Homo sapiens: one gene and its partners. The protein of the gene in region 2 purifies or fractionates together with the protein of the main gene of each other region. This does not show direct contact. Each region holds a gene or a part of one and is shown on either strand. Other genes may lie near its edges. The genes, in order: HEMK1, MTRF1L, CHI3L1 and ACAD9.

What was found.
Region 1: the proteins of MTRF1L (region 2) and HEMK1 purify together in Homo sapiens (affinity purification with mass spectrometry; 3 studies listed by BioGRID and IntAct, with this or other methods). This does not show direct contact.
Region 3: the proteins of MTRF1L (region 2) and CHI3L1 purify together in Homo sapiens (affinity purification with mass spectrometry; 3 studies listed by BioGRID and IntAct, with this or other methods). This does not show direct contact.
Region 4: the proteins of MTRF1L (region 2) and ACAD9 purify together in Homo sapiens (affinity purification with mass spectrometry; 2 studies listed by BioGRID and IntAct, with this or other methods). This does not show direct contact.

Annotation. Positions count from the first base shown.
Region 1 is NC_000003.12:50,579,522-50,586,545, forward strand, and holds part of HEMK1 (MTRF1L release factor glutamine methyltransferase), read left to right. Parts: intron 1-322; coding exon 323-418; intron 419-594; coding exon 595-708; intron 709-859; coding exon 860-896; 3' UTR 897-2,090; coding exon of another isoform or gene 2,091-2,178; 3' UTR 2,179-2,556; coding exon of another isoform or gene 2,557-2,572; 3' UTR 2,573-4,513; coding exon of another isoform or gene 4,514-4,529; 3' UTR 4,530-7,024. UniProt on the Homo sapiens protein: N5-glutamine methyltransferase responsible for the methylation of the glutamine residue in the universally conserved GGQ motif of the mitochondrial translation release factors MTRF1, MTRF1L, MRPL58/ICT1 and MTRFR.
Region 2 is NC_000006.12:152,992,704-152,999,727, reverse strand, and holds part of MTRF1L (peptide chain release factor 1-like, mitochondrial), read left to right. Parts: intron 1-1,092; exon of another isoform or gene 1,093-1,098; coding exon 1,099-1,178; coding exon of another isoform or gene 1,179-1,202; exon of another isoform or gene 1,203-1,435; intron 1,436-1,574; exon of another isoform or gene 1,575-1,723; intron 1,724-4,408; coding exon 4,409-4,592; intron 4,593-5,051; coding exon 5,052-5,215; intron 5,216-6,753; coding exon 6,754-6,871; intron 6,872-7,024. UniProt on the Homo sapiens protein: Mitochondrial peptide chain release factor that directs the termination of translation in response to the peptide chain termination codons UAA and UAG.
Region 3 is NC_000001.11:203,183,686-203,190,541, reverse strand, and holds the start of CHI3L1 (chitinase-3-like protein 1 precursor), read left to right. Parts: upstream 1-3,837; 5' UTR 3,838-3,918; coding exon 3,919-3,943; intron 3,944-4,196; coding exon 4,197-4,226; intron 4,227-5,156; coding exon 5,157-5,358; intron 5,359-5,909; coding exon 5,910-5,966; intron 5,967-6,732; coding exon of another isoform or gene 6,733-6,750; coding exon 6,751-6,856. UniProt on the Homo sapiens protein: Carbohydrate-binding lectin with a preference for chitin. Has no chitinase activity. May play a role in tissue remodeling and in the capacity of cells to respond to and cope with changes in their environment.
Region 4 is NC_000003.12:128,903,608-128,910,631, reverse strand, and holds part of ACAD9 (complex I assembly factor ACAD9, mitochondrial), read right to left. Parts: intron 6,571-7,024; coding exon 6,500-6,570; intron 6,247-6,499; coding exon 6,127-6,246; intron 4,512-6,126; coding exon 4,383-4,511; intron 2,448-4,382; coding exon 2,368-2,447; intron 1,660-2,367; coding exon 1,533-1,659; intron 1,289-1,532; coding exon 1,211-1,288; intron 760-1,210; exon of another isoform or gene 612-759; coding exon 483-611; exon of another isoform or gene 369-482; coding exon of another isoform or gene 299-368; intron 1-298. UniProt on the Homo sapiens protein: As part of the MCIA complex, primarily participates in the assembly of the mitochondrial complex I and therefore plays a role in oxidative phosphorylation.

The DNA of each region.
Region 1 (7,024 bases), on a different chromosome or scaffold from region 2:
CCCAGATCTCCCAGACCAAGAAGAGGAGCAGCCTGTGGGGAGACACTCATGCCCTGACATGAGTCAGTGCATCAAGAGAGGCCATCAGCCAGTGGGATTCAGCAAGCATGCCTGGCGCTGCCTGGTAGGGTGCTGCCCATGGGAGGAAGAGAAGAGGAGCTGCCACCCATTTGGGGCCCTCCTTCTCTGGGTCCTCAGATTTGCCCTTCAGCCCAGAGTGTAAGTTCCACAGGGCCCCATTCATGGAGGCCTTGCCCATGCCCTCCATGCATTTCAGATACCCCTTTCTCAGGCTGTCACCTCCCACTGCTTTGCCTTTCAGCTATGAAGACCCCGCGGCCCTGGATGGTGGGGAGGAGGGCATGGACATCATTACCCACATTCTGGCCTTGGCACCCCGGCTCCTGAAAGACTCTGGGTATGAATGGGATGGGTCTCCTAGGTCTGTCCCCAGCAGGCTCCTCTGCTCCTAATGTGTACTGGGCAGGCCCTGGCAGAGGTCAGCACAGGACCCTCACCTCGCCAGCCCAAGCAGCCCAGAAGGGCAGGCGCCAGACCTGTCCTGCTGAGCCCACCCATTTCTCCCCCATGTAGTAGTATCTTCTTAGAAGTGGACCCAAGGCACCCGGAGCTTGTCAGCAGCTGGCTTCAGAGCCGGCCTGACCTGTACCTTAATCTTGTGGCTGTGCGCAGGGACTTCTGTGGGAGGTAAGATCCTAGCCCCCTTTAGCCCTGTAGCATGCTGGTCTTTCCACTGGGGCCATCCTCAGCCCTGGCTGTCAGGAGAGTGTGCTGTTCCCACTTCCTGTTCATTCCCTGAGGCCCAGGTGGTAACCAGCCCCTGTCCCTGTCTCCTCAGGCCCCGGTTCCTGCATATCCGGAGGTCTGGGCCATAGCATGGCTGCCCTGTGGATGCCTTGTCAGTGCCGCCAGCCTGACCAGAGGGGAGGTGGATGGCACTTTCCAGAGCCCAGGTTCTTATGGCATTTCCCAGGGTTCTGTGATTTCCCCATGCTCTGCATTTCTAGGATATTTCTAGGACACCTGGATTGGCTCCATCACATCAGAGTGGCTGAGGGCAGTTGCTCTGTGTTGGTGAAATTGCTGTGGGGGTATCGGGGGATATGGCCAGTAAAGTATTGAGAGACTAACAAATGGTGACCTAATGTTTTGTCCATGACTTGCAGGTCCCCTGACCCCCTTACTCCCAGGTAGCACTGGGGCAAGGGTTTCCTTCTGCCCCAGCAGGGCTGGCCGTCAGTCCCCTGCTTGGTAGTGGTGTGGGGGTGCAGTGTGGAGGAAGGCACGTGAGTCCTCACTCCTGGCCTTGGATACCATGGGTCCTGGCATAGAGCAGCTCACTCCCAGGGATTGATTAGTCCTCCACTGCCCTGGGTGCATGCGTACACAATTCCCTGGCCAAGCCTGGCTCGAGCACAGGAAGCTCATCTGCGTTTTGGCTCAAGGATGACTGCCTGCTTTCTGGAGGGGAGGGTCTGGAGGTCTTTGCTGCACAGTTCCTGGGTCGCACATCCACGTTCATTTAACTGAAGGCTTGAGCCAGTGAGGGGTGTTTCCTTTTTATCCCCATAGCTTTTAGCTAAAACATCCCTCCCGAGTTGACCCCCTGGGGTTTCAAATAACCCATGTGTCCCTGGTTGGGGCTGGGGAGAGTGAGAAGCTGAGATACTGGGCACAGGGTTGTGGCCTCCACCCCAGCTCTGGTCTGTGCAGACTCATGGCCACCAGGAGGCCTGCAGATCCAGCCTTCCTGTCAACAGCGACAGGAAATCTCTAGGTTGGTGAGTGCTGGTGATGTGAGCCTACATCAGGGTGGGTCCTAAGAAACATGGCAAACCAGGCTGTCTCATTCCACTAGACTGCCCCCTGCCACCCTGGCACTTCCCAGGGCCTGGCAGTATGGTCTGATGGGCAGTATGGTCCAATAGGCAGCATCCTCTGCTGCAGCTGGGAGAGCTGAGTTCCAGGGCTGTGTCCTGCAGTGGGACCTTGGGCAACTCCTTTCCCTATGAGAAGCTGGCTCTTCTGAGTCCAGGGCCAACGCCAACTGGCAACCTCTTTACTCTTAGTCAAGTGGAATGTGCATGCTGGCATCTGAATGTCCATTCGCCAGGCATGGAGAGCAAGAGAAGGTATGTACTGCCTGAGGTCACATGACAGTGACCAAGTGGAGACAGTAAGTTAGATCCCTCCCTTTGGGGAGCCTATATTGCTGGAGTCATACCCAGCCTAAGTGTTGCCCTGCACTATGGCTGGAGGACACATTTGGTAGAGGTCACACTGCAGCTCCCAGTGCCCCAGTGTCCTGCCCTGTGCCCAGCCCCAGCTGCATGGACTCTGAGCTGCCCCTGGCTTCCTTTAAGGAGGCTGCTCCAGAAGGAACCTGGGTGGGGAGGGCGAAGGGGGTGCACAACCAGGGCAAGGCTCCCCACTTCCTTAGTCCCCCATGCTCACAGACCTTTGCCTGCTAAGGTCCTCACCAGTATTGCCCTTTCTGTCTTTCTCCTTGTGCCCTTTGGCTCTTGCTGTCTTCAGCAGCATCTCAGGGTAGCTGCCCTGACCTCGGAGCAGTCTGTCGCCCCCCTACACCTCAGCCAGTCCTGGCTTCCCTGATGGTCTCTCCCTCCTGGCCTCAGGCCCATTCCTGAGGAAGGGCCTTGGCGAGCTTGTGGATGTTGCACCAGAAGAGAGTGCAGTGTTGGAGAGTGACACTGTCGGGGCAGCTGGGGCCACAAGCAGGAGCCGGCCTCGGGCACAACTTTCTGCCCAGAAAAATGTGCAGCTTGACTCTGCTGAGGAAAAGGTCCAAGCCAAGAGGACTGGCAGGCGGGGCCTCAAGCCTGCAGCCACTGGCTTGATTGGGCCCTGGACGTTGAGCCCAGATGTTGGAGCCACACCAGCCTGGATTTCAATCCCAGAATCTGCCCCTCACGAGGATGTGACCTTGGGCAGATGACTTCACCTCACTCAGCCTTGGCTTCTAAGGCTGAGAAATGGGACTTAATGCTTTATTTTATAGGATGCATGTGAGGAGCCCATGGGATGTGCCTGGCTTGGCACATTGTGGCATTTTTCCTTGCCTTCCTCGGAGGGCAGACACAGGGAGGAAGGACCCAGTGCCCTCAGGCGTCCATCTGATGCATGGGACCAACATAAGGCAGGCAGGGATACAAGGCAGTCTGGAAAGAAGGGAAGGCAGGAGTTTCAGTCTTGGGCTCTTGACTCCTCACTGTTGTCTAGAGATGGAGCCAGCAGGCTGGTAGCCTGGCAGCCTACATCTCCCCTCAGCCTCTCCTCACTATGGCCCCAGTGCCTTGAGGCCCAGGCCAGGGCAGCCAGTGGCTCTAGCTCAGGGAAAGCCAGGCCCACCTGCCCTATCCCCTCCCTTGCTCCTGAGGCCAAAGCCAGAGACTCGAACAGCCTCCCCACCACCACCAGCATATGTCAAGGAGCACTTGCAGGCAGAATGGGAGGAGGACATGGAGCTGATGGAGTCCAGGCTGTGCAAGCCCCTGAGGTCTTGAGAGATGTGCCCACTGCCCGTGCAGCCTCCTTCAGCCAGAGCCCAGAGCATAGACAGGAGTGTAGGAGTCCCTGTTTGATGTACTCTGGGAGAGTAATTCTATCTCCTCTTCTGATAGTTGGGGAAACTGAGGCCTTGTCTCACAGTTGGATGCTTTTCCCAGTTGTCAGTGGGTTTCTCCATGGGTCTCATACAGCTGCCTTATTGAAATAGGCCCCGAACCCCCTAAATGCAAAAAATACTCTTTTTTGCTCCTTTACCCCCACCTGGACCCTGGGCTATTGGCTGCTCCCAATCCTTGCCCCAAACACTTAGCTGGCTCCCCATGACTTAAGTGTGTTCTCTTGTGTCCTATGGAATCCAGTTCTGAAGAGGTGGGGGAGGACAACTGTGGGAAAAGCCCTGGGGGCCCCTCCCAAGGCCCCATCAGTGCTCTGAGTAGGCTGTCATCAGAACAAAGGGCTCCACTGCTGACAAGGTTTGAGAACTGCTGGCTTGAGGTGAGAACCCCTTTAACCTCTGCGGGACAGCATGTCTTTCCCTATCCACCTTCGATTCTTTTCTCTTTTTTTTCTTCATTGGCTCCTTCTTAGTGGATTCTCTTCTCTACTGCCCTGGGCTTCAGCCTTTGTGCAGTACTCTCGATGCCCTGAACACACACCTTCCCTTTGCCCAGGCGGTGCAAACAATCCACTTCTTCAAGCTCCAACACAAATGCTGCCTCCTTTAGGATGCCTGCTCTGTGCTCTCCCTGCCTCCCCTAGCCCATACCTCTGCTGGCACCTTCTGTACCATGCCTTCAGAAACCTTCTTATCCCCCTCATCTCTGGGGCCCCCTGTGGATCTGGCATACCCAAGTTCAGTAAATGTCTATCAGTAAGCTGATGGTACATGCATTTTCTAGAATAGAGCTGGGACTTCCCATGTGGCCCACATCTGACCTGGCAGCCCATGTATTCCGGTCATTAGGGATGGGAAGCCATGAGGACCTGGCCTTCTGCCCGACCCAGGCAGCCATTCAAGTTGAGCAATGGCCACTTCGAAGACTCAAGTGCACCTGATCCCTGCGCAACAGCCACACCAGGAGAACAGGCTGTCCTTGGCGGCAGTAGGAGCAGGCGCCAGGTTTCCTGGAGCTCTTGGCTTCAGCCAGCCCCCAGCCAGAGTCCTGGCTAGGACAGTGACCTGATCTCCTCCTCATGACCTTCTGCCCTGGACAAGCCCCCTGAACTGGATTTGGGACTGTCAAAGCAACTCTACCCCTGCTCTGGTAGGCTGAACAGTGACCCCCCAAAATGGCAGTGTCTTAATCACCTAAACCTTAACATGTGACTATATTACCTTCACATAGCAAAATGGACTTTGCAGATGTGATTAAGGATCTTGAGATGGAAGGAGTATCCTGGATTTTTCAGGTAAACTGAGTATAATCACAAGGGCCTCTGTAAAGGAGGCAGGAGTGTCAGAGTGACGGAAGAAAATGTATGTAACAATGGAAGCAGAGGTCAGAGTGATGCAATTGCTGGAGGAAGAGCCATGAGCCGAGGAATGCAGACAGCCTCTTCTCCTCTGGGGCCTCAAGAAGAATGCAGTCCTGCCAATACCTTGATTTTAAGCCCTGTGAAACTGATTTCAGATTGCTGACCTCCAGAACAGTAAGATCATAAATTTGTGTTGTTTTCACATGTGTGAAAACACATGTGTGATAATTTGTTACAGCAGCCACGGGAAACGAATATAGATTGTGGTGCCCAAATTAGAGTGCTGCTGTAACACACGCCTACTGATTGAAGTGGCTTTGGAATTGCAACGTGGAAATGGGCAGAGGCTGGAAGAATTTTGAGAGTCATGATAAATTGCCTTAACCACCTCTCTTCTGATAGGTGATGTGGCCAGGGGAACTCTTCCTCAACCTTCAGACCTAAACTGCCCAGGCCCCCCCTTTTTTTACTCATATTTGGAGAGAGGTGGCCCTTTCCCAGAGTGAGAAGACTGAAAGACTGACCAGCATGGGTCCCAGAAGGGAGTGGGTGAGGAATGGGACTGGGATGTGGGGAGAAAGTGCAAGGCTGGCCTCCATGGCCCATCTCCAGAGACTGGGTCCAGAGAGGACCTCAGAGACTGGGACCAAGCCTGTTCCTGCTCTCCTGTGGAGTTATGTGACTGGCCCAGGACCCCTTGGGTGTGTGAGGATGAGCAGGGGCCCTGTACTCTCTGGGTTGCAGGTACTGCATCTGTGAAATGAGCACAGCAGCCCCTGACTTTGAGCTAATGGGCCTGGCCCCTCCATGTAAGCCATAGGCCTGAGCAGAGCTGTGTCACCATTCTGTTCCTATGGTGGAGTGGGGCTATCCCTGGGGTTCTCAACCTCCTGGTTCCTAAAACTGAATTGGCCAACTGGTGCCCTCAGCCCTGTCCCTGTCCAAGCTGGGACTAGGACCTCCCTTTCCAGGGGTACTAAAGGACTCTGGAGACACCATCCCACCCAGCCAAGGCTTGGGGCTCCTGAAGCCAGTCCTAACCCAGGAGCCACATGGAGAGCTACTGGGAGGCCAGACATGGGCCTCATGCTGGGTTTCAGAGCTGAGAAGCTGGGGGACAGAGAGCATGGACACCTGGGTTCAAGGGTCAGCTTGGCCCCAAATCACCTGGATACGCTTTGGATGAAGCCAGGAGGGCCTGTTTATACTGGAAGGGGTGGATCATGGCAAGACTTATATTCAATCCCTGATCTTTTTTCCCAGAGAGGGATGGGGCTTACTTGAAGTAACACAGCACTTGACTCCTGACTCCCAGTATGATGCTCTCATCTCCTATTGCTTCCAAAGGCCTGGGGTTAGTTAATTAAGTCAATTAGGTGGTGCTCATATGGCTGTCCATGTAGCTACTAAACCCAGGGATTCTGGCCCATAAAGCCCTCTGGGCCAGGTTTATGGGCAGGTAAGAGTCACATTAGGCCAACTGTAGCCCTGGGTGTGCAGACAGATCTGAGTCCCATCTGAAGCTCTGGTAGCTGTGGGAGGAGAGCAGGATTTCCCCCGCTTGCGGAATGAGTGGGTGCCTTCCCCTCTGAGGTAATTGGCTGTACAGCCCCCAGCCTCTGCCCCCCAGGGCCCTCCTGAGGTGTCTGGAAGGACCTTTGGGATCTTTGGCCTCATAACCAGAAATCAGAAGCTTCAAATTCTAGAGGCCCCTTTTCTTCCAAAGACTACCTCTCACACATACAGCAGTCCTGCAGGAAAATGGTCAGGAAAGGCTAATTTTACAGCTCACAAAGTGGGAAAGGCAGGGAAGCCTACCTCAGCTTCATGGAAAGCCCTGAACTGGGCTGACCTCCACCTGCCCCAGCTATGCCTAAAGGGGGAGGGTGAGACAGCTTAGAGTAGCCATGCCCCGTGGCAGGCAGGCCTGGCTAAGTGGCCCCCTTCCCAGGGGCTGGGGTCTTCCCCAAACACTCTACCTCTCAGAGCAGAGGATGTC
Region 2 (7,024 bases):
TGGCAGCAGACAAGAGAGATAACTTGTGCAGGGGAACTCTTCTTTATAAAACCATCAGATCTTGTAAGACTTATTCACTATCATGAGAACAGCACAGGAAATATCTGCCCCCATGATTCAGTTACCTCTCACTGGGTCCCTCCCACAACAGGTGGGAATTGTGGGAGCTACAAATCAAAATGAGATTTGGGTGGGGACACAGCCAAACCATGTCACATAAGGGTTTAGGTTATTTTTTGTTTTTCTCTTCTAGAAAAATATAAGGAAACTAAAATTATCTATAATGCTCTCTTGAGGGCAGGTCTTATATATGTATTATCCCACTTCCCAGCATGGTTGTTTCTTAATAGATAAGCATACAAACTGATGCTTTGTAAGGGTTTGAACTTTCAATAGAGAGAACAATTTGTTAATAGCCAGAAATTTTCCCTTTCCTCCTCCTTTATATATGCTGCATATCATCTATAGGGTAGAGGAATGAGAAAGTATGTTTTATAAGGTAAAAATGAAAATTCAAAGATGAAACAACAATAAAGGTAAAGCCAGAGAGAGAGACAGAGGAGTACTTCGTATAAACATTCTGTATACATTAGGCAGAATCTAATAAATGTTTTTGGGTGGATACTAAAATACTAATGAAACATTTGCTTATAAGAGAATAAATTTCTACTTTTTAATTGAATTTTAGTTTTACTGGTGTAACCTTCTGTATCCCTTCTGTCTTATTAGCTAAATGCATTCGTTATTATACAGTCTAAGTTGGAAGTCTAAAAGCATATTTATTAAGGTGAATATTTCATGGAGATGAAATTATGGAAGAGTTTAGCTTCTTTATATTTTTATAGAAATTTGTACTTGTACTTTATCAGAAAAAAAATTTTATACTTACATGCTTATGAAAACTAATGTATAAAATGGTGAAATTGATTGAAAGGACATTTATTGAAAGGCATTTATTGAATGGTATTTATTGAAAGGACAAGATATACATTTTATTTTTCCCTTCAGCTATAATAACCATAAAACTATTTCCTAGAAGTCTGCTAGCAATTTAACACTAATTAAGGAAAACCTTAACTTCTGCCCTTTTTTTCCTAGATGAGAATGAAGATTTAAGGAAACTTGCAGAGAATGAAATCACTTTGTGTCAAAAAGAAATAACTCAGCTGAAGCATCAGGTATGGTATTTCTGCAAAGAATAAAGCATTTGTGCTATTCTTAGGCATTAAAGTTTATTAAAGGTTTATAAAAACAAGTGACTAGCTTGTTACTGTTTAGAATAAACTGGGTTTTTTAAATTTATTTTCTAGATTTATTGAGGTATAAATTGACCCCCAAAATTGCATATATTTAAGGTATATGATGTGATGTTTTGATATATGCATACATTTTGAAATGATTATGACTATCAATAAACTGGTTTTTAAAGAACAAACTTCACATGGTCCTGTTTTCATCATACTAAAAGTACTGTAGCGCTCTCACAGAAAGATAAATGTCACAGTGATAGTATTTTCTGGAAAGGCAGCGAAATAGTGGCATATCTTCCCTTTTTTTTTTTTTTTTTTTTTAAGAAGACTGGAGGTAGACATGGGGCAGAAGAGGTTATATGAAAGGACTTCAAAAGTTTGTGGAAAACTGGAATTAAAAGATAAAAAAATATATATATAAACTTTAATTTATTGACATAAGTGCCACCAGCTATCAAGTTCAAGACACTTTGGTAAGCAAAAAGGTGATATACCAGCATTTAATGCATCCCTAAAGAACTGAGGGTCCTGGGAATTTAACCATGTCAATGTAGTCTTTTTTATATTATTAACTAAAGAACAATGGGTACCCTTTACAAAGTTTTTAAGATCAGGAAACAAAAAAAAGGAGGAGCCAAATAAGGACTGTAACATGAGTGCCTATGGATTTCCCATTGAAGCTCTCAAAATTGCCTGTTTGATGAGAGGAATGAGCAGGAGCACTGGTGTAGGAGAGGACTCTGGTGAAGCTGTCCCTGGTATTTTGCTAAAACTCTGGCTTTCTCAAAACCCTCATAGTAAGCAGATACTGTTCTTTGGCCCCTAGAATGTCAATAAGCAAGGTGCCTTGAGAATCCCCAAAAAGACTATTGCCATGACTTTTGCCCCTAGCCAGTCTGCTTTTGCTTTGACTCGACCCCTTCCACCTCTTGGTGGCCATTGTTTTGATTGTACTTTGTCTCCAGGATCATACTGGTAAAGCCATGTTTCACTTCTGGTTATAATTCAAAGAAATGCTTTAGGATCTTGATCCAATTTGTTTAAAATTTCTATTGAAAGCTCTGCTCTTGCCTCCAGCTGATCTGCATGCAAAGGTTCTGGCACCCATCCAGTGGAAAGTTTGCTCACCTTTAATTTTTTTGTCAGAATTTTATAAGCTGAACCAGTTGAGATGTCTGTGGTTTGACTATTGTTTCTTCTGTTAATCATCAGTCTTCTTCAATTAGGGCATGAATAAGATAATTTTTTTCCTCACAAATTGATGCAGATGGTCTGCCACTGTGGACTTCTTCTTCAACATCATCTTGTCTCTACTTAAAATGAGTTATCCATTTGTAAACTGCTGATTTCTTCAGGGCATCATCCCCATAAACTTTTCATAAAGCATCAATGATTTCACCATTCTTCCACCCAAGCTTCACCAGCAATTTAATGTTTGTTCTTGCTTCAATTTAACAGAGTTCATATTGCTCTGATGGGGCTCTTTGCAAACTGATACCCTTTTTAGTACCTCAAACTAGAGCCTGTGACTTGTTATAACAAGTTAGCACGAGTTTATTTTGTTACAAAATAACTTTGAAATACAACTTCTTGAAGTCCCCTGTTAGAGTGATAGTAGACTGTGAGCTCCTCAGGGCCAGGAATACTTATTTTGCATCTCTGACACTATTTGGAATACCAGACCTAGAGTAAGCCCTCACGATTTTAAGAATTGGATTACATTGCTTTGGTTGTACATCTTTGTGAATTACAGAACATATAGAGTTAATGAAGAATAATTATATGAAATTAGAGCCACTCTTTGCTAATTCTGTAAAGCAGAGACTAAAGGTTGACAGCAATTACCGTTGGGGATAAGTGAAAGAATATGTTAGGTAAGGAAGGAGCCAGGAAAGGGGGTACTTATTTTTGAGAATCTGCTTCCCCTTTAGGCAAATGTGAAAATTACTAAAAATTAATGTTCCTATAACCTATGTTAGAGGGGGAGAATTCCACTATAAGGTGAAAAGTGTAGTATAGCTCGCATTTTACCCATTTTCTAAATTAAATTTTGTGTGAATAAGAAGGATATGTGTATTAAATGTTTCTGTTCAGTGTCTAGTAATCAACAAACAGAAGTAAAATCCATTATTTGTTCAAAATTTGAATGATAATGTTGTATTGGCATAGGCTAGAGAGATGGAAAAGTAGTAACTAGCATAGCTTCTGACCAATGTCAAGTGTGATAGCAGTGTACTCAGGTATATTCAGGTTCAATTCTAGCTCTTCCACTTAACTTTTGAGTTGGGTAATGTTGAGCCACTAGATTATTCAACCCCTGTAAAATTAGTTTCACATCTTAAGGTAGAACTGTTAATAATACTTACCCAAGATTGTTTTAAGAATTACAGTATGTACAGTGCTTAGAATGCCTGCCATATATTAAAGAACCAATAAAATGTTGGTAGCTTTTCTTATTAATTGACCTAATCTAAGAAGTGTTTGTTCTAGATCCCCTTGATTAGAAACACACTATTGTAATGGAGGGAAGACTGATCTAGGCACAAAGGTTTGTGTTCTTGTGCCTGCTTGGCCAGTAACTAACACTTTGCCCTTAAACAAGTCATTTAATCTCTGTTAAGCTCTGTTTCCTTTACATGTATAATTAAAGAATTGGACCAGATAATCTCTAAGGGCCTTTTTAGTTTCAAAATTACAAGTTTCTCTTCCATAATAAGAAATCTTAAAATAATACAAATGTAGTTTTGAGTGCTTTTGGTTTTCTGCCATACTAGGCCTTAATTTTCAAGAGGATGGATCTAGAATCTTCTTTTGCTTTCCACAACAGTATAATCTCCGAATCAGAGCAAGTACTTAGTTCTTATTAACTGAAGAGAGAACTGATACAAAGCATACAAGAACTCCAACAGACAATAAAACAAGCCTGAAATTTTAGCTGAATCTTAACAGCATTTATAATATGGTTGTAACATTAATACTTTATGGAAGTTACACATTATACAGTTCTAATTGGCAAGGTGGTTGAACAGTACTCAGCAATATTACATTATTTGCTTGGCGAAACTTAAATATTTAAAATTCCTGAATCATTTAGCTTTTTATTTTTTGATAAATTTTAAATCTTAATTATAGGAGGGGTGATATTTTTATATTTACAGATTATCTTACTTTTGGTTCCCTCAGAAGAAACAGATGAAAATGATTTGATCCTGGAAGTAACTGCAGGAGTTGGAGGTCAGGAGGCAATGTTGTTTACATCAGAGATATTTGATATGTATCAGCAATATGCTGCATTTAAAAGATGGCATTTTGAAACCCTGGAATATTTTCCAAGTGAACTAGGTCAGTAAACTATTCATTTTGTTTCAGGTAAAGTGTTTAGGAAAAGAGTTGGAAAGACCATGACTAGGCTTTAGAACTTATCTGTGAGGATGCTTATGTAGTTTTATGCTCATCATTTACCTAATAAATTTGAATGCACATACAGTAATTTTGAGATGACCTATAAAATCTAATGGAGAGTCTTTCAATAATACTAACCATCAAATTGCTAACAGTCTTTAAAAGTAGTCTTAGATGTGTTACTGATGTCAACTGATTAGCCCCATAAATGCTTTGTTTAGTACTTGTAAGCAGTAAAGATAAATATTAAAACATTGAATATTTTAATATGTTTTACAGTCTCCATGTTCATCTCCTTTTATGACTTTAAAAATATACCTCAAGATAGTAGATGTGATGGTCAATTATTTATAAATGGCAGGAATAATAAAAATAATTCTATTTCCCTGTATTTTCAAGGTGGCCTTAGACATGCATCTGCCAGCATTGGGGGTTCAGAAGCCTATAGGCACATGAAATTTGAAGGAGGTGTTCACAGAGTACAAAGAGTGCCAAAGACAGAAAAGCAAGGCCGCGTCCATACTAGCACCATGACTGTAGCAATATTACCCCAGCCTACTGAGGTAAGGCATAAGCCCCTCTCCTTGGAATCCCGGGCCTAGCACAGTGCCTTGTCCCCAGAGTTAACATTCAGAGTTTACTGAATTGAGTATCTATTTGGTCTTCCTTGTGTATTTTGAGTTGCATATTATCTCAGTCTAAAAAATATAATTTTATAATGCTAAAAAATTAAGGATTTGTAAATGATACAATGTTGCATTGTCTGTGTATTAGTATTTTCCTAATAAGTAGTTATTGTGAGATCATCTCTGTGGGTGAAATAATAACCTATTTAAATATGGACTGGTTGCCTTTATAATGACTTCTGCCTTGTGTGACTGGTTTGTGGGGTATTAACAGCAACAATCCTATTTAACAAAGGTAATTACTTAACAGAATTGCTGCTTCATAACCCAGTTACATTAAAATGAAAGTATATTGTTATACTGTTCATAATGAGTATACTTTATTCTCACAAAGCAAATTCTCAGTCTATATTTTTAAGATAACTTAGTGTAGGAGTTCTGTTTTGCCTCATTTCCCTTCTACTGAAAAGTGATAGCAGATATCTGACTTGTTTTTCAGAATGAAGTGTGAATGCTTTGAGAAGGAACTCTTAGTGGTTCCTATGCTAATTTTGGGAAAAAGTGCTATTTGGCTCTGTAATAGGTTTAATGGAGTTCCTTTCTTTAGGTCTTAGTTTCTTTAGATCTAATTTTTGTGTGAAGCATAGGTGAGAAACTAAGCAGTTAAGGGAGAGAGTAAAGTAGAATAAATGGCAAGAGCCACATCTAGAAACCTAGTCACTTATGTTTAACCATCTTGGGGTGGAAGTTTTCAGGAAAAGATGAGAGACTGAGGTCCATGTATCATCTAATTCCTCTAGCAACCATAAGAGGGAGTCAACACAGGGAGACATAGAGGTAGAAGGCCCAGAGAATGGTAGGATTCTTACTGTCAGCATTGCAGAGATGTCACAGAATGGTTCTTAGTTGTTCATGAAACAGTGCTTTTGATGGTGGCTCCTAGGACAAAGCATTACCTTGACCTCAGATCCCAGTGTGTTGAGGAATTGAGACTCATGACTTCTTGGCCACTCCCATTTCCATTTGGCTCATCTTTGCCTCCAAATATGTTTGAAATAAAACAAAACAGACCCTTCCCACAGTTCTCACGCTACCATTTTTTTTTCCTGCTGCTAGGCTCTTTAAACTCAGAAAAATTTGAAAAAACCTTAAACATTCAGTTCTAAAAGTAGGCAGAATAGTATCAAGTTCTGCTGTTTCTGTGGTAAGAAATGGATAAAGGGAAGCCAGGTTTTTGAGGACTAGAAAGGATTTGTTTTTCAAAACTGTACAGTCCTGTACTATTTCGATTCCCTACTCTTCCAAAAAGCAAAAAAGTTTTAAAATGGTATCCTTCTAGCTACTCTCTAGTCTTAAAATTAAACCTCCCAAATATATGAATTCTGTACATGTTGTATATTCATAAATGGGTCGCTCTTGCCTTTATAAAGTTGATACATGTAATCTTTTAAAATCCCAACTTTTCTTCTGTATAGATTAATCTGGTGATTAATCCGAAAGATTTGAGAATTGACACTAAGCGAGCCAGTGGAGCTGGGGGGCAGCATGTAAATACCACGGACAGTGCTGTCCGGATAGTTCATCTTCCAACAGGTGTGTACTTATTCCTTCAATATATGACACCAAAGAAATCAATTTTGGAATAATATGACTAATTTTCCACTGAAATAGATCCTCGGTTACCAGAGAAGTATATACTTCTAAGGATTGTTATTAAATATTTGATTTACTTAGAATCCTTACCTG
Region 3 (6,856 bases), on a different chromosome or scaffold from region 2:
GGTCGAAGCTGCAGTGAGCCCAGATCACGCCACTGCACTCCAGCCTGGGTGACAGAGTGAGACTCTGTCTCAAAAAGAAAAAAAATTCCCCGAAAAAAACAATTTCATCCCTGATTTTTGCTATGCTGATAAGTGAAGATGTGTTGTAAAAATGATGCTGATCTCCACCAAACGTGATAACCTTGGGTCATTTTTTTTTCCCCTTCAAATACTTGTTGCATTTTGCATTTGACGAGCCAGCCATTCTGAAATCTGACTCGCTTCCGCTTTTCACAAGCAACTGTTTTCTTCTCTAAGTGTTTCTGCCTCTGAGTCTTCGACAGCTTCTACTGTGCGCCAGCACCACCACCGAGCTGAGGATTTGGAGATGATTTGAATTCCTGCCTGGCAGAAGTCCACCCTCTGGAGGAAGAGACTACTTGTAAAAGAGAGAATTCTCCTCAAGCATTTGGTGGGGCATCAACACCACCTCTGTTTGCTCTGACACGCCATGCAAAATGAAGGAATCCTCAAAACCACTGTGCCCAAGGGGCCAGCCCAGGCTCCCAGGAGCTTGTTTTCTGAATGGTGGTAATGTCCACCCTCTGGCTCCTGATCCAGACTCATCTTGTGCCTCCCTCGAGCTCCCTCCTGCTAATTCCATGCCTCAACCACTCTTGAATTCTTCTGGTTCCTGAACATAACAACCTCTTCCTGCTCCAGGTTTTTGCACAATTTTTTTTGTGTGTAGGGGACGGTGGGCAAGGGGCAGACTAACACCTGCCCTTCCTTCGTAATACATTACTTGCTTTTCTTTGTTTAATGTCCATCTTCTTTGCCAGACTGTATGCTTCATGAGGACAGGGACTGCCTCTCTGTTCCCATTCACCTTTCTGTCTCTACTGTCTACCTCAGTGGAAGGCAACTACTCTAGTACACTTACTTAATAAACATTGGTTGAACACTATCAATGTACTGTGGGGCCTAGAAATGTTTGATTAGGGAAATTAAGTCAGGAAGCTTGTTTTGTGGTTTTATGGCACCTCCTGAGTCAGTTCTTCACAGGGTAACAAAAACTATTGAATGAGATGAAATTTTGAGAACATCAGGGTTTAAACTCATAAGAGTGTGAAGTTATGCACCATTTTGAGATCATTTGTTCATTTATTCAACGAGTACTTTACTGAGCATCTACTATGTCTCAAGCACTGGGGATAGATACAAAGGTGGATAAAATGACCCAGCCGTTGCCTTTACTGAGTTTATAGTCTAGTGAGAGAGGCAAACAAAACATCCACTGCCACACACAACATATAAAATTATAACTGAGTCAGGTGTTAAGGAGAGAGGTACAAAGTGCTCTGACAGCCCTATAGCGGGTTTTCTGTCACCTGGAGACTGCCTTTTCTGCAGACAAGGTGACTCCTGAGCTGCAATCTGAAGGATGAGGAAGAATAAAGCAGTCAAAGAAGAGCAGTGTTAGGCTGCAATTCTCCATCCGCAATTCTCCAACCGCAATTCTCCATGGGTTGCCTGCATTTCCTGCACAGCTTATGTGCAGAGGCACTGGCTTCTTTGTTCTAGGCAATCTTTTTAGTGATGTTTGTACAGCAAACAGCCTTGGAAGATAGAAATAGCGTCCCCCCTCCAGACCAAAAGGCAGATTTGTTTACTGTCCAGTAATAAAGATAATGTCTCCCTTATCTTGGGCTGGCCAAGGTGAGGAAGGCTTACTGCTCATCATGAAAGATTTGAGTTCCTTAAACTAGGGATTCCTCTGCTGTGATGTAACTCATTGCATTCATGGCATCTACCTGGGCTCCTCCAACACTGCCCTTGTGAGACCTGAGGGCTAAGGGGAACTGACCCTAACATGAAGTTCATGCTGCTTGCTGTACCATGGATAATAAAGTCCTTTGTCTCTGACCTAGGAGTCTCGTGTCTTCTGCCAACATCCACGAAACTGTAGTTATGTCATTAATTTGCAAGTAGCATAAAATCTCAGATCTTTCATCGTTATTTACAGGCAAGTGGATGTCATATATAAAGGCCCTGTGGCGGGAGTCAGTAGAGCAAATATAAGGATTTAAAAGAAGACATATAAGCATGAGTGGAATATAGGGAGGGTGGGGGTCATGGCCTGAGATAAGGCTGGGAGGTGGTGAGCCTATGAGACCCTTGGCCAATCCTGCTAACACAGGCCTGGGGGTATCTTGGCCATTTGTTGTTACAAAGCTGCCTTCAGGCAGAGCATGTGGAATTAATAAACTGAGCTTGAGGGAGCATAGGACAACAAGGCTTGGGCCAATCTAAGCCTATGAAATAATTTTTAACAAAGGGAGATAGTGAAAATAGGAGGTGTTTTCTTAACATCCTGTGCTCTGTGATGAAAAATTTTGCATCTGCATGCCACTTCATAATATCACTATTAGAAATTAGAAGTCCTCCTCTCAGTGCCCCAAATGAACCAGAAGAAGCTATCATTGACTGTCATTGCTGTCAATCATCTTGGGTACAAAAGGAGGCAGTCATCTTAAAAAGGAAAAGTGATGCCTCTTTAGTATTCACCGAGCGTGATTCTGGACAAGCCACTTTTTGTCCACCTCTCTTACAATGAAGGGAAGGCACTGGCTGAGTTTTAAAGGAAGAGAAAGGGAGAGAGGGAGAGAAGAGGGAGAGAGCAGAGAGACCTCACCGAGAGAGCTGCAAAACCAGCCTGGAAAAATTAGAGTATTACCTAACATTAGTGAAAAATAAAGGTACTTTCTTGAGAAGCCCTTGGACCCATTCTGCCTCTTGGAGTTCTGAACTTTTCACTCACTGCCTATTAATTAATGTTAAGCCTGCAAAGAATGGAGTTGTCCTGGATATTTGGCCAAAAAAAAAATGTATCCACAAACAGGGACGTAATCAGGCAGGGAGCCTCGTTAAGAAGTTTTGTTCTTGTCCTAGGAGTGATGAGAGATCACTGAAGGATTTAGAGAGGGGCTGTATCATCAGGCTTGGGTTCCAAAGCCTCACTGAGAGAGTTGGGGAGCTGACTGATGTCAGATGCTCGTGCAGCCGCCCCGTAGGGCCTGTATTTCCTCCATGGTGCCTCACTGCAGCACCGAGCTTGCAAAAGATCCTCTCTCTTTATGGGAATTTCAAAACAGAAGCAAAATAGCACCGGGGCTTAAAGCATTCTTGGGAATTTCCCTGTCTTTCCCTCTAAATAATCAGCATGTAAATTGCAAAAAAAAAAAAAAAAAAAAAAAAAAAGACACGGGCCCAAAAGGGAGCGCTCAGTTTCAGGCTCTTTGCTTTCCTTCCTCCCGAGGCTCTCTGGCCCTTACCCAGCCTGAAGACAGAAAGTGTGAGGGGGAGGGTAGGAAGGTAGGTCAAGCAGGGCAATGCTGAGCCTGGGAAGAAAACAACAGCCTTGTTTAGGGCACTGTGGCTTACGTAACTAAATTGTGCCCAGTTTCCACCTGGCCAGGGGCCTGGAGTGAATGCTGAAGATGCAAAGGTAGAGGCTGCCAGAAAAGCCAGGAAATTGCTGGCAAGAAAGGCCAGTGGTGGGGTGCAGGAGTGGGAGGAAGGCTGGGAAATGCGGCTGAGTCACATCTCCAGAAGCCCCCCATCATCACCCTAGTGGCTCTTCTGCTGGCAGGTGCCTCATGAAGACCTGACCCAAAGTTTTCAAAACTCTGCGGTTTCTCAACCCTCCTCTGGTAATCCATAGTACTCCCCCGCCTCCACTTGCCAGCCTCGTGATTCCTTCATTGACACATAGCTCAGTTCCCATAAAAGGGCTGGTTTGCCGCGTCGGGGAGTGGAGTGGGACAGGTATATAAAGGAAGTACAGGGCCTGGGGAAGAGGCCCTGTCTAGGTAGCTGGCACCAGGAGCCGTGGGCAAGGGAAGAGGCCACACCCTGCCCTGCTCTGCTGCAGCCAGAATGGGTGTGAAGGCGTCTCAAACAGGTATCTGGGCTAGCCAAGGTTAATCCATCAGAGTTGTGGGTTTTCAGGCCCAGACAGCCCGCAGAGCCATCTGCCTGCTGGGTGAGGGACTAAGGGAGTGGGCAGAGGGGGAGGAGAAGCAGAGCCAGGGGAGGGACTGAGGCTGCAACCAGGAGGTGGGGGTGGGGGAGGTGGGTCTCAGTTGCTTGGGGGAGGGAGCAGGGCGGAAGGGCAGGATGCACTTGCAGGGGTCTCATCCTGGATTTCTCTTCAGGCTTTGTGGTCCTGGTGCTGCTCCAGTGCTGTGAGTAATCCCTCCACCTCCACTTTTAAGTCCAGAGGCGTGGCGAGGGCACAGGGCAGGTGTGGAGGAGGTCTTAGCTCCAAGGGAACACTTTGCCAGGTTCTTCTGTGCTTCCAATGACTTCGAAATAGTCACGTTTGCTAAACTGGAGTGAGGAGTATATGGATGTTTATTTTGCTATACTCTTTGGTATATGTGAAAATTCTCAAAATAAGAAACTTTAAAAGGTCCTGGTTCAGTGAAGGCTTTGACTAACAGCCCCTGGGAGCCGCTAGTACAGTTGCCCAGTAGCTGCTTGGATGAGTGATGCCCACATTGTTTGCAGCAGGAGAAACAGAATTAGAGGCGAGGAAGGATTTCCTGGTCCATTGTGATATTGTGCCCCAGCCTGGGGGACATGCCGAGGGAGCACAGGACTGCCATTCCGGGTGGGTTACAAGTTAGAGGCACTCTCACCAGGAGGCAGAGAAAGGTGGGCCAGAGTCCCTCATGGATGAAGGACCTCACTGCAGGTCACTAAAGGTGCCAGCCTGAAAGCCAGGGCCATCTGTGACACAGGCTATCTTGGGCCTTCCCCTCCCACAAAGCCACTGCTTCCAGGAAGCCTGCTGTGCTGGCACCAAGTCCCATTTCATCCTTATTCCCCAGCTCCTACCCTTCCCCCACACAGTGCCTGTAGCGTATTCATCCCCTGCATTGGATCTTTTCTAAGCATTTTCAGAATAGGCCTTATTTTCACCAGTCAGGGAACTCCCCAGAGGCAGGGGGACCTGAACCAGCTCCTTTCATTTAAGAATTCTGACTTTGCTCACAATCTGCACCCCACTCCTCCCTACCCAACCCCACACCCCATTGGTGCTCAGCTCTGGGCTCAGCCTGAGGTCTCTTGCCGAATCCTGGCCCGGGCCCCATCCCAGACTTCTCCTTCAGGCTCTGCATACAAACTGGTCTGCTACTACACCAGCTGGTCCCAGTACCGGGAAGGCGATGGGAGCTGCTTCCCAGATGCCCTTGACCGCTTCCTCTGTACCCACATCATCTACAGCTTTGCCAATATAAGCAACGATCACATCGACACCTGGGAGTGGAATGATGTGACGCTCTACGGCATGCTCAACACACTCAAGAACAGGTTGGGCCAGGGCTGGCCAGGAGAGGAGGGACCAGCTGGGCTGGTCCCAGGGCAGGGCAACCCCACCCAGGAGGAAGGGCGAGGCCCCACCCTGCTCACCTATGTTTGGAGAGTTAGAGGGGCTTGGCTTAAATGGGTGGAGGGGATGACTGTAGGTGCTGGGCAATATTTGGGGTGATGAGAGACTGTAGACGGAAGCGCAGCTGAGCCCCTCTGGGAGAGGGGAACCCTCTCCTGCCCCTAACGTGCTCTCCAGGGAGCATGGAAAATGAGCAAGACTCTACTTTGCCATACTCTGTCTTCTCCACTGGGGAAAACAAAAATGGGCAGCAGACCTCAGAGTAACTCCCATGAAGCCTGTGACCCCTCAGAGATCCACCACTATGAATCTCTATGGGATTCCCATGATGTCCTATGGGAGGACATCAGCGGCCTAACCCAGCCTCTCACCCAAAGCAGGAAACCTTCTATGGCCTCTCAGACATGGGGCCACCCAGTGTCATGACAATGTCATTCCACTCCTGCCCTCCCCACCTCCCTGTGCTCCACAGGAACCCCAACCTGAAGACTCTCTTGTCTGTCGGAGGATGGAACTTTGGGTCTCAAAGGTAGGAGCCTCTCCCCAGGGGCAGGACGGCAGAGGATGATGGCATAGGAGTGAGGAGCTTGGGTCTCCCGCATCCACTGTATGGATGTTCCAGGGGCTCCAGACTAGATAGGTACAAGGCCTACCTGTTTGTCAAGGGCCTGCCTGATGTGTAGCAAAGAAAGCAGAGCCCAGAGAGAGAGCAGGACTTGCCAAGAGTCACACAGCAAGTTAACAGTGGATCTCCCAATTCCCTGCCAATGCTCTATTTACTACCTCACAGGCCCGAAAATATGGGACTTCTGGGGCTACCACCATTAGGGCTGGAAAGAGAGAGATGGAAACCAATGGGGACATTGAGAAGTGGGGAGACCCTGGGAGGAGTCTTTGGATTAGGTGGGGTTGGAGCAGGGCTTGAAATGGGGGTGGTTATGGCCATCGTTGGCACCCATGTGCTGGGTACTCTTTCTGTGTCCAGCACCCTGTCTCCCCATGATCCCATGTTGTCCTCACAACAGCAAGGTGAGCTGTTATATTTGTCCCCATTTTACAGATGATGAAACTGAGACTCAGGTTATAACCTTTCACAGTGGCTGGCTAGTAAGTGATAGAGCCAGACTTGGAAACCTGGAATGCCTGGCTCTAAGGCACATGCATGCCTGGAGGCGACCCCTGTCCCAATCATGCCCTCCCAGAGCTGTGTGGCCTCAGGATCCCAGCTCTGCAGGTCCTGGAAACCCCACCAGAGGCCCAAGGCACCTAGCATATCAGTGCTGAGCATGCTACAGGGCTGATTTTGGTCCTAGATTTTCCAAGATAGCCTCCAACACCCAGAGTCGCCGGACTTTCATCAAGTCAGTACCGCCATTTCTGCGCACCCATGGCTTTGATGGGCTGGACCTTGCCTGGCTC
Region 4 (7,024 bases), on a different chromosome or scaffold from region 2:
GGCCTGGCACAGGAGTCACCCCGTCTTGGGTTCTAATTCCAGCCCTGATCCAACAGCCTTTCCCCAACAGCAAGTGACTCAACATCTCTGACCCTGTTTCCTCTGAAAGGCAGATGTCACAATCCTGGTATCTGCAGGTGCTCTGGAAAGTGCAGGCAGAGATCCTGGTATACAGTGGGTCCTCAGAGACTGCACCCGCCTCCCTCCAGCACAGCGGGCAATGTGCAGGGTCTGTCCCTTGCTGGGGGTAGGGGCACTGGGATCAGGAACCCCTGTCACTCACCCCCTCTTCTCTCAGTCAGGAAGAAGAAAGGGAACAGCCCCATCTCCTGAGCAGCACAGACCCTCCCACGGCCACCGCATGGTGAACCTGCACAGCCTCCCCCACACCCGACCACACCCTCCTCAACAATCAACTTCATTAAAGTGCAGCAGGACAGATGGCAGCAGCCAGGCCCTGTGTGAGGCTGGGCTGGGCTCACCTCGTGGTCGTGGTTGCGGAGCCCAATGCGGATGGAGCGGCTGGCCCGCGACAGCACGGCCGTCATGCCATACAGGTTGATGAGGATGTTGGCCACCCGCTTCAGTACCAGCTGCTCCTCCATGATGGTCTGGGATCACAGAGGCTCCAAGTGGGGACTCACTACCTAGACCAGTCCCCCACATGGTCCCTCCCTGGGCTGCATCTTTGCCTGTCTTAGTCTCCTGTGTTCCTTGAGAAAGTGGAGTCAATAACACCTTTCTCTTCAGGTTGTGGGAGAACGGCTCCCAGCCACCTTCTGTTTTCCCTTCTCTTTGAGCTCTAGATTCAGGGAGGGGTTAAGGCAAGACCAGGTCCCAGAAGCTTGGCTGAGACCAGAAGCCAGTGCTTACTGTGCTACTGCCACCTTCAGCAGCAAGGGCCCCACCAATCAGGTCCCTAGATTCAGGCCCCAGGTGGAGCTGCCCTCCCGATTCTAGGGAGCCTCTCTACCTGAAAGGTGCACAGAAAAACACTGCAGAAAACTCACCCAGCAAGGGTACCCATCCGAGTAGCTAAGTGGGCCCCAGGCTGACAAAGTCAGCCTGACCTCACCACCCCATCCCTCCAGGGTGATCAACATTTCTGTTCTAGGCCTGGTCCCAAAGGATGCTTGACAAAAAGTAGTCTCATGAATGCTGGCCAAATTGGAGGACCGCTTGCGACCCAGGCCTGGGAGGGCCTGGTTACCTTGCCAAAGCGGAGCAGCAGTGTCTCCACGGTCCGGCCGAAGCAGTAGGTGTTCTCCTCAAACTTGTTGGCACTGTCCTATTAACCAAGACAGGACTCAGTTCAGCACCTCATCCCTACAGTGCCCTGTCCTGTCTCACAGCCCGGGTACCAGGCAGAGATGCCCCATCTGGGGGAAGCAATCCAGGGTGTCATGGACTAGCTGGTGTTCCCCAACTTCCCCTGGAGAAGCCCAGACCCCCCACAGTGAGATCTTTTCTGCCACAAGGAGATCTGGCAGGAGGGCATTGAAATAGGGGGTATGCCTGTTAGGCCCACTCACCGCAAGACTGGGGTGCACAACTCCATGGTTGCCTGTCAGCCCCAGGTCCACAGTTCGGCCCAGGGAGTCCCGAAGCCTCCGGCCAACGGTATCCATGACTGTGCTCACTTTGGCCTGTTTAAGCTCACTGCAGAAAGTCCATGGTCCTGTGACTGGAGGCCTCGCTGCTGGCGCTCACTGTCCAGCAACATGGCCCATTCGGCACCCAGAAGCTCCGTGCCCCCCTCTGGCCTGGGTATGCTGGGCCCCTGGCTACAGCCTGAACCCCCCCAAACCCACCACCTGCCAGAGAGCAGCCAGTCTCCTCAGGGGAGCCACACATATGCTCCCCCATGAGGGGTGGAGTCACAGCCAGCTTCCCAGCAGCTGTCTCCTGTGAAGGAGACAAAATGCTACTAGCAACCTGTACTTGGCCTCCAGCAGTGATTTTGGATTACTGTGCCCCTAGGGTGGGGGTGGAGGGGAGCATGAGGGGAAGAAGGGCAGAGAAGAGAAACACTGGCTTATGTTGGCTGTGAGGCCTGGCACCTTTAAAGGGACACCTCTCATTCTTCAGGTTCTGAAAAACCAGCTGCCTCTAGTGTGAGGGACCAGATGGGGGATACGGTATTTATGCTGAAGCTGTAGGGTGCTGTGGCCATAAGGGCAGGGCAGCGAGGGCTTCCCTGGGCAGCAAGCCCCCCACTACCACAGGGGAAGGTCCCCTCCACAAGGCTGCGCCACACCCCCATGCCCCCACTCCAGGTCAAGGCAGCTCTTTCCTCCCACTGCCCTGGACTGGCCCCTGCTGGGCAGGTATGGGACCTGAGAAGCACACGGTGACAATGGCACCTACTGGATCCTGGTAGTCAGGATGCGGCCGGCATGCTGCAGACCCGTCAGGGCGATGTACATCCGGAGAATCTCATTGGTTCCCTGTGGTCAGTAGTGTAGAGGTCAAAGGCTGCCCCCCGGCCAGGCAGCCATGGTAGTGCCACGTGTGCTGGGTAGAGCCGGCCACTGCCTGCTTGCCCATTGCCACAAAAGCCACTGCTCCTGAAGTAGCTGGGAGCAGGGCTCTGGCCAGGGCTCAGGGAGTGCACAGGGATGAGGAGGGAGGTGACCAGATGGCCATGAGCTCCCACTGGGACCCCCCCACCTCTCCGTGACCAGCCTCACGTGTGTCAAGCCTTTCTCCAAGTCTCCAGGTCCTCTGTAAAATGGAAACCAGCTTTCCCCGGGTGGTGAGGGGTGCTGATGCCTGGGGCTCAGCCAGTGCCAGACAGACATTGCTGGCTCCAGGTGGAGGCCAGATTCCTCACGGAAGCCAGAAATTGCTGAGTGGCAGCTAGAACCTCCTCAGTGCCAGGTGTCAACACACCCAGAGGGCCACATGCTCCCCACTCCCCCAACCCATGATTCTGATCAGTGAGAGGCCAGTGGGCTTCTGCCCACTCTGCACAATGGTACTGTGTGTCAGGTGCAGGGGCCTGACCCAGGCTACACAGCCAGCACTAGGGACTGAGGACTGTCCCCTGCAGTCAGGCTGACATCACGGACAGCAGGACTCCCTACAGGAAAAGGGGGGACTGCAGGGGCCTCCTGGCAGGACCACCCAGCTCCGAGCAGGCTCCAGACAGGAGCTCTCACCCTACATCGAGAGCCCTGTGTTCTTCCAAGGCCTTGAGGGCTTCCTGAACCCTGCTGACCACCCCAGCCCTGGAGAACCCCAACCCTCCCAGGCTAAGGGAAGGGCCTTTGGAGAAGACCCTTTGCAGGGCTGAGACCACTCCAGTGCCCTCAGGCTGGCCCTTGCCCCGTATGTCCACTGCAACAGTGGAGATGGCTGGAACCCAATGGGTAGGCCAGGAACAAAAGCAGCCAAGGAGGCCTCCCACTGGGCAGGACGGCCCAGGAGACAAGACTACACTCCCAGAGGCTGATGATGCCTCTCATCACCAGACCTGCTGCTCAGGCCCAAACCCTCTCCCTGTCTCAGGCCTGCCTCCTGTATACCCATGCCCACCATCATATCCCACTCATCCTGCTGTGCTCTCTTAGGTCCAGCCCCTCCCTCCCAGCAGGAGAGCCCCTGGTCTCCGGCCTCATCCCTGCAACTCACTCTCCACATGAGCCCCGTCCACATGTCCAGCACTTGCTGAGCCCCTGGGGGCATTTCCCACAACACAGATACAACCAAATAATGCCCTGCTTAAAGACGTTTTGTGGCTTCCAAATTCCTCTGCTGTCAATCAAGGTCCTCCACAGTCTGGCTACTTTTTTAGCCTTCCCATATACCTTCTTCAACACCCCCAAACCCACTGCCTGCCCCAGCCCACCTAGCAGGGCTGACTGCTGCTCCCAGAAAGCCCTTCACTCTCTCTTCATTCACCTTGTGCCAGCAGATCAGTCCCATCTGGGCCTGGCGCGCTCTATTACCCTGCCCTTAGGGACAAACTGCCCTCCACCCGGCCCTGGTTGAAGCCCTTTCTTTCTGCCCCTAGGGGCCAGGAGCGCATGCTTCACAAAACTCTGGCTGCCTCTGGAGGATGCCCGCTCCCTGCCTCTTTACACTCTGTCATCTCCCTTGGTCGGCCCTGCTGCACAATCAGAACACAGCATCCGAAGTCATCTCTGTGGCCCCAGTTCCCTCCCCTGCCACCTGGCACATGCTAACTGAACTGACTCCTCAGGCTTGTGACTTCATGGAGGGCAGCAGTCGGGAAGGAGACGTGCCAGGGCTAGGAGAGCCCCTGAGAGCATGCGACCCAGCCCTGGGCTGCGGGGGCCTCTGCGAGGCCCTGAGCAGCATCTTTAGGACCAGGCAGGGTGGGGGTGGAGCACAGCTTAGCTGGTGGCGGGGCCACTCACCTCGAAGATGAGGAGGATGCGGGTGTCACGCAGTATGCGCTCGTACGGATAGTCCCTTGTGTAGCCCAAGCCCCCGAGGATCTGCAGCGCCTCACTCACACACTGCCAGGCGGCCTCGGAGCTGAACACCTGTGGGGTGTCACACTGAATCCTTTCCAAAAGGAGGACCTACGCTGCAGGGAGCTGGGTGGCTGGGGAGGCATGGGAGGCACACGGGCTTGGGGAGGAGATCGGCCAGGGAGGAACTTGAGGGGTGATGTGGTCAAGTCCTTTGCCTTCCGTGACCACACTGGCCAGCTTGTGTTCCCTACCCCACCATGACCTTCTGTACCTCTGGGCCTGCCTTCACCCTATCTGCACCTGGCTGAGCTCCTGTTCCTTTAAAACCCACCTAAGATCTCCCCTTCCCGAGAAAACCTGACCTGTTCCTGCCAAGCCCCAGCGGCCGTGATTTCTTTCTGTCTGTGCACACTATAAGTGCCTTGGGGGCAAACATACTGCCATGTTTAGCCCTAGGCTTAGCATCTGGAAGAGGCTGGCCTACAGCAAACTAATGTCTGTGGTCACTGTTCAAGGGTGACAAGAAAACGAGATGATAAAACACATGCAAATGCACCCAGTACACAGACTGCACCTAGAAAAGACTCAAACACGGTCCAAGATGCCCAGCCTTTTTGTTTTTAATTTTTTATTTTTTTAGGGACCTTGCCACTTCAGGATCCCAACCTTTTAGGTAGACTCTCCTGCCGACACCAGGATGTTTGCTTCTGTAAGCTGCCATACCTCTCACTATTTCTCTCAAGAGCTCAATTCCAGAGACCAGCTTAAAAACAATTGTGGGGGGCACAAAGTAGGGTCCCCCCAAGTGTGGCCATCTTTTTTATTACAGCTAAAAAATGACACCCTCCACCCTCAACAAAACAAAAGCAAATTCTAGTATCTACCTTAACCAAATAAGATGCTCTTCCCACCTCAGCCTCCCAGGTAGCAGGGACTATAGGCGTGTGCCACCATGCCAGCTAATTTTTGTATTTTTTGTAGAGATGGGGTTTCGCCATGTTGCCCAGGCTCATACATGTTTTTTGTTTTTTGTTTTTTTTTGAGATGGAGTTTTGCTCTTGTTGCCTAGGCTGGTGTGCAATGGCACAACCTCGGCTCACTGCAACCTCCGCCCCCACCGGGTTCAAGTGATTCTCTTGCCTCAGCTTCCCAAGTAGCTGGGGTTACAGGTGCCCGCCACTATGCCCGGCTAATTTTTTGTGTTTTTAGTAGAGATGGGGTTTTACCATGTTGGCCAGGCTGGTCTCGAACTCCAGACCTCAGGTGATCCATCCACCTCGGCCCCCCAAAGTGCTGGGATTACAGGTGTGAGCCACCGCGCCCTGCCATATGCTTAGTTTTTAAGATAAAGTTTTGATACCAGAAAGTAGGAAGGCCATAAACTAAGGAAAAAAGAAGTCTTTCTCACACAAGCCAGATGCAATGTTATTACTCTAAAAGGATATTATCATAACGGTCTCCTTCTGCTATAAACTACTGATCCACTGGCCCACTGGACACTTCCCTACTGCTGCTCCCCGCTGCCTGCCTATCCCTGGAGTGCTACACAGGGCAAGTGCATCATAAATACTGGATCAATGACAGGAGGAAGATGACAGGCAACAGCATGGGCTTGAAAGGTCACAGTGAGGGAGATTTCCCAAGCCTCCCTCCAGCGCCAGCTCTCTGGCTATGCCAGGGTTACCTTCACCATGGCTGCCTCGATGGAGCAGTCGGGAAAGCCAGGTTGGTCCAGCATCCCTGCTGTGAGGTAGGTCATACTCTCCATGACGTAAGCCTTCTGAGCCATCAGTGCAAATTTCTCCTGGAGTGTTCAGAAAAAACACAAGAAACAATTTGCATGTGCTGAGAGCCAAATCTGTGAAACAGGAGAGAAAGTAATTAAGTCAGAAGCCTCAATGCCCAAGAGAAGCAAGCCCAGTGACCCGTGTCAAATAAAGCCTTAACTAGTCTTCTTCCCAAATCACCACAGAAGTCACCAGTACAGAGACATCAAAAGAACACACCGTTCATGTCACACAGTGAAATGCACAAATACAGTACTCAACCATTGGTACCTGAATCAATCCAAATTCACTGAGCCTCTTGTTAAACTGTTTCCTTGTGCAGGCGTACTCAGCAGTCATTTCTGAGGAAGAGCAGAGTTATTAGAATGAACTGGAATATTTCTGTGGTTCAAACATGATTTCCTATGGCCATCATCCTTACCCTTCCCACAGGTGGGCACTGTGAGAAGCGTGTCTGCTGAGGTCAAATACCCCAGAAGCTGGCACCCCCACTTGCCAGCACCCGTGGGTCAGAGGAGAACCACCCCTCCTCATGGCACCCACACACAGAGTTTGGCATCAGATACAGACTTGAATCCTGGCAATGGTTCTTACAGGCTGTGCCTCAGGCCGAGTGCGACACCTCCCTGAACACCACCCCCACCTCAGAGTCGCTGTGAAGATGCAACCAGGTGGAAGGGGGAGGGCGCCTCGCACAAAGCCAGGCACAGAGGCCCCAGACAGAGGTGGTGCAGGCTCACACCCCGTGCAGTGACCAAAGCAGGTGGGGCCGCCTGGCTTGAATACTCAGGCTGG